Regions from separate parts of the Homo sapiens genome. Here region 2 is linked to region 1. Evidence: fine-mapped expression QTL. A gene starts in region 1. The other region holds a variant in brackets. All regions are shown on one strand. Distances are from middle to middle. Region 1 holds the start of DUSP22 (dual specificity phosphatase 22). Region 2 has its middle 30 kb from the start of DUSP22.

The links. PIP is the estimated chance that this variant, and not a neighbour inherited with it, causes the effect.
Region 2: its variant is the best candidate, but not a certain one, in a credible set for the expression of DUSP22 in whole blood (INTERVAL, PIP 0.54).

The regions. Positions count from the first base shown.
Region 1 is chr6:291,092-293,856 of GRCh38, reverse strand. DUSP22 (dual specificity phosphatase 22) reads right to left here and starts at 1,370. Exons shown (of 7, transcript NM_001286555.3): 1 at 1,297-1,370. The coding sequence starts at 1,317. RefSeq lists silencers at 78-137, 148-207, 87-243, 988-2,007 and enhancers at 638-897, 1,190-1,690, 1,691-2,191, 2,118-2,407.
Region 2 is chr6:260,997-264,026 of GRCh38, reverse strand. No RefSeq gene overlaps it. Among named protein-coding and RNA genes, the nearest start is that of DUSP22, 30 kb to the left of the region's middle. The variant A/G (reference allele first, on the strand shown) is at 1,350.

The DNA.
Region 1 (2,765 bases):
AGAGAGAGACAGTCTGTTTCCAAACTTGATCACTCGCCAAAAAAAAAAAAAAAAAAAAAGTGAATACAATTCTCTTTACCAAAATACCCCAGTATTGATATGCAGGTCCCAAACACACAATAGTTCTTTCACAAACTGGGTAACCAGGACACAATAAACACGACATGCGCACGTGAAAAGTTAGCTAGGTTTTCCCTGCCCTACCGTGAATCCGCATTTGCAACACTCCAGCCCCAACACCCAAACCACTGCTGACCCAGTGCTGAGGGACATGAAAAAAAACACAGCCACATTGCCATCCCCACCCAGTGTGGAAGCTGACGGCATGTAGAGATGTGGGTGGGTGGAGCGCAATGAAAAAGTGAAGCAGAAAGACGACTCATCTAATCCAGGACCATTCAAAGACCCGTAAAAAGGTACTTGTCTTTGTTGCGGGCTTTGTAAAGTCTTGTCAATCCTTCCTCGAAACCAGCCAAGTACCAAGTAACAAAATCCTTAACCCTGTGGTTCACATGAATACACCCCGGCAACTCTCAGCTGCCAGAGCTGGAATCTGGCAACTTCCCTGGACGGGAAAGGCTAGCCCACCGCCCGGGAAGTGAGGTGCGGGCAACAAAAGAACACAGGGTGGGGCCCAGAAACGGACGGGACAAATGGAGCAACACAGATTTTCCAGAAGGCCTCATCAGCGCAAGCAGCCAGCAACAGGTTGCCCTTGTTGCAGAAGTCACATAACCTAATCAACTCTGAATCTTTTCTCTCCTCCCCACTATCTAGAAACAGCTCAGGACTTAGGACTCTGTTAACTTCTCTGTCCACAAGAAAAACTTCTCTGTGCTCACAGGCACACACACAGAATCTGAGGAGAAAGAGGAAATTACAGAGGACACCCGTTTACTAATGATGTGGGGGGGGCGGTGGTGGCTTCAAGAGCGTAGTTTGGGAGCGAAGAGGAGGGCAAAAAAGAAGCCACATCCATTCGGAGCTCAGCTGACCTCTCGGCAGAACAAGTGTCAACGCTTTCAAAGGGCGCGGCTTGTTTCAGCCACGAAAACGCACCGGCTGGCAAGGCAGGCGGCTGGGGGCTGCCTACCCGGAAGCCGGGTGGGGTGGGGGCGGGAACACCTCCGAACCCCGACTCCGCGGTCGCCGCCCAGGCGCGCCGCCCCTCCCTCCGCGCCCGTCCCCACCGCGGGAAAGGGCACCCCGGGCTCGAGTCGTCGGGCAGCCGACGCCGGCGAGACGGCAGGGCGTCGGAGCGGAGGCAAACCCAGCGCGAACGAGGGAAGACGTTACCTTGTTCATCCCATTCCCCATGGTGGCTGAAGGCGAACGCTAGCGCCCCGGCCGTGTGGTCGCAGGCGCACTATGGCATGTTACAGGGAGGAGGAGCGGCGGGGCGGGCGGGGAGGAGGCGCGCGGGAGGGACTGAGTGCTCGCAGTGTCAACAAGTCAGCGGCAGGGACCGGCCGGGCAACCCAGGGCGCTCCAGAGACCCGGCGTGGAGGGCAGGGCTTTCTGTGCGGCGGCCTAGAACTTCCCGGCGGGAGCCGGGCAGGGGCACCGGAGCCTATGCCGGGAAATGGTCCCGCCTTGCCGGTCCCCGCCCCCGTGCGCACCGGGCAGGCCCAGCGTCCCTCCTCGCTCCGCCCGCCCGCACCCTGGGATTCGTAGTCGGGTTCCTGGCTGCCGCGCCCCACTCCGCCCTCGCGGACCCCGGCTCGCGGCCGCCGGGCGTGGGAGGCACTAGGCTCGGGCTCCCAGGCGGCCGGCCCCGGAGGCCAGAGCGCGTGCGCGGCCCGAGCCGCCCCGCCGGGACACCCGAGGCTGCGCGGCGGGGCCTGGCGGACGCGCAGGCGCTGCCCTGACCGGGCGGCTGCGCTCGTCTCGGAGCCCGCTCCCCGGCCGGGGGTCTCCAGATCCCCCTTTGGCCTTTTCCCCTGGGGCGACTCCGGGGGCCAGTTACCAGCAGTCGCTACCCAGCCTTGGCTGCCTCCGTGAATCAGGTGCTAATCAGAGGCCTGGTCTCTGGGGGCTCCCCTGCCTGGGTTTTCTGAGTGCGGCAGATTTAGGCTGGGGGATTTCCTGCGGCCCTGCCCCATGCACCAAGACCGAGAAGCCTCGCCTGGTGGGGAGAGGTGGGCTACGTGACTCACCCCGGGGAGGCCCGACCTCCCTACCCTGGGGGAGCAGATGGCTGGATCTCTGACCTCAGACCTCACGGCCTTAGATGATGTGTGTCCCTTAATGTCTGCATTGTGGTTCTGTCTGGAATGGATCAATTTCTAAACTGTAGCAGAATTGTTTTGGGTGTTCTATCAACGTTATTAAACTCTGAAGTTTCTCTCCAGCGACAGAATCCTTGAGCCAGTGGTTTTTCTTCTTAATTTATGTATCCTCAACAATGTCCTGAACATAGTAGGTGCTTAATAAATATTTGCTGAATGAGTACATGCGTCAATCTGACGTGCCCTGGCTCACCCCTGCTGACTTCATTTTATCTTCTTGCTAAGCGAGTTACACACATGCTGGTCTCCTGTCTGTTCCTTGAGCCTGTCAGGCTTGCTGGGCTGTGCTCTCTATCCAGACACCTGGATCCCCAGCTCTCTGCATACCTGCCTGTTATCGCTGAGGTATCAGCCCAAATGCCATCTCTCCTAAGAGGCTTTTCCTAACCACCCAATTCCAGGTTGGTCCTCCAGTCACTATCATATTACTCCGTATTATTGATCGGAAATACATGTATTTGCTTTCTTTTTATCTGT
Region 2 (3,030 bases), 30 kb after region 1:
AAATATAGCTGAGAATGAAAAAAATAGGCCAGGTGCGGTGGCTTGCGCCTGTAGTCTCAGCACTTTGGGAGGCCAAGGCGGGTGGATCACGAGGTCAAAAGATCGAGACCATCCTGGCCAACATGGTGAAACCCCGTCTCTACTAAAAATATAAAAGTTAGCTGCGTTTGGTGGCATACACCTGTAGTCCCAGCTACTTGGGAGGCTGAGGCAGGAGAATCACTTGAACCCAGGAGGTGGAGATTGCAGTGAGCCGAGATCATGCCATTGCACTCCAGCCTGGCGAAGGAGCGAGTCTTCGTTTAAAAAAAAAAAAAAGAATCAATAAACCCAAATGTTGGCTTGTTAAAAAGTGCCACAAAATTGGCAAGTCTTCAGCTAAAGCAGCAAACCAAAAAGAGAGAAGACACATATAACTAAAATAAGAAATGAAAGTGGAGGTATTAGTACAGATTTTACAGAAATAAAAAATTATAAGAGAATACTATGAACAACTGTATGCCAACAAATTAGATAACCTAGATGAAATTGATGAATTTCTGGAAACACACAAATTACCTGAAGTGACTCATGAAGAAATAGAAAATCTCAACAAATATAAAACAGGAGATTGAATCAGTAATCAAAACCTCCTAACAAAGATATGTCCAAGACCAGATGGCTTCACTGGTAAATTATACTAAACATTTAAAGAATTAACACCAATTCTCTATAAACTCTTCCTCCCATCCTTGAAATAGAGGAGGGAATACTTTTTATGGGAACTCATATTATAAGGACATCATAACCCAGATGTCAAACTAGAAAAAGACATCAGAAGAAAAGTATAGACCAATATCCCATATGAATAGAGATGCAAAAACTTCAACAAAATACTAGCAAACCAAATCAAATGACACATTAAAATAATTATACACCATGACTCAGTAGGATTTACCCCAGGATGCAAAGGTGGCTCAAAATTTTGAAATAATCAATGTAACAGATCAATTAAATTAATATAACAAGGGGAAAAGATGCATGCTCATCTCAATTGATGCAGAAAAGGCATTTTCAACCCCCTTTCATGATTTTTTTAAACCCAGAAAACTAGGAAATAGAAAGGAACTGCCTAAATATGATAAAGAGCAATTATAAAAAACCCACAGCTAACAGCATACTCAATAGTGAAGCTTTCTCCTTTAAGATTTTTTAGATTTCCTCCTAACAAGACAAGGATGCCCACTTTCATTCCTTCTATTCAACATTATAAGTTCTAGCCACAAAAATTAAACAAGAAAAAGAAAGGACAGGCATTCAAATGAAAAAGGAAAAAGTAGTACTATCTCTATTTGTGAGGACATGATCCT[A/G]TATATAGAAAATTCTAGAGTCGACAGGAATACAAATCCAGCAAAATCACAGGCTACAAGATTAACACAAAAAACTCAGTTGTGTTCCTATATACCAGCAATAAACAATCAAAAAAGAAAATTAAAGCAATTCCATTTATAACAACTTCTAAAAGAATAAACACCTAGAGATAAATGTAACTAAGTGGGTGAAAGAATTGTACAGTGAAAACTACAAAACTTTGCTGTAGGAAATTAAAGAAAGAAATTAAAGAAATAAATGGAAAGACATTTTGTGTTCACAGATTAGAAGACTTAATACTGTTAAGCTGTTAATAGTACCTGAAGCAATACATAGATTCAATAAAATCGCTTTCACAATTCCAGCAGCCTTTGCTGCAGAAATGAAAAAGTCAATCCTCAAATTCATAGGCAATTGCAAGGGCCCTGGAATAGTCAAAACAATCTTTAAAAAGAAAAACAAATTTGGAGGAGTCACACTTCCTAATTTCAAAGCTTACAAAGTTACAAAAAGCAAAACAATGTGGTACTGGCCTAGATATAAACATATAAACCAATGTAATAGAATGAGAGTCCAGAAATAAACCCATACATCTATGGCCAATTTATTTTATTTTATTTTATTTTATTTTATTTTATTTTATTTTATTATTTTATTTATTTTTGAGATGGAGTCTTGCTCTGTCACCCAGGCTGGAGTGCAGTGGCATGATCTCAGCTCACTGCAAGCTCCACCTCCCGGGTTCACACCATTCTCCTGCCTCAGCCTCCCAAGTAGCTGAGACTACAGGCGCCCACCACCACACTTGGCTAATTTTTTTGTATTTTTAGTAGAGACAGGGTTTCACCATGTTAGCCAGGATGGTCTCAATCTCCTGACCTCATGATCTGCCCACTTCAGCCTCCCAAAGTGCTGGGATTACAGGCATGAGCCACCGTGCCCAGTATGGCCAATTTATTTTTGACATAGATGCCAAGTTCATTCAAGGGAGGAAGTAATAGTCTTTTCCACAAACAGTGCAAAGACAATTGGATTTCAATATGCAAGAGAATGAAGTTGGACCCTTACCTCACATCATATATAAAAGTTAACTCATGGATCAATGATCGTAAAATCTTTGAATACACAGAAGATTTTTTTAGGGCAGTGAAAAGATTCTGTATAATACTGCAATGATGGATACATTTGTTTAAACCTGTAGAATATACAACACAAAGTGTGAATTCTAAGGTAAACTACGAACTTTGGGTGATTATGGTGTGTCAAGGTAGGTTCATTAATTGTATGCACCACTCTCATGAGATATTTTGATAGTGGGGGAGGCTGTGCATACGTAGGATAAAAGGCACATGGGAAATTTTTGTATCTTCCACCTAATTTTGCTGTGAACCTAAAACTCCTCTAAAATAATAAAGTCTTAAAACAAAACTCTTAGAAGACAACATAGGAATAAGCTGTTATAATCTTGAGTTCAGTAGTAGATTTTCAGGACACCAAAAGCACAAGAAACAAAAGAAAGAGTAGATAAATTTGACTTCATCAAAATATTTGTATATCAAAGGACATTATCAAGACAGTAAAAGACAACTACAGAATGGGAGAAAATATTTGCAAATCATATATCTGGAATGGGATTAATATCCAGAATATATAAATAACTCCCGGAACTCAACAACAAAA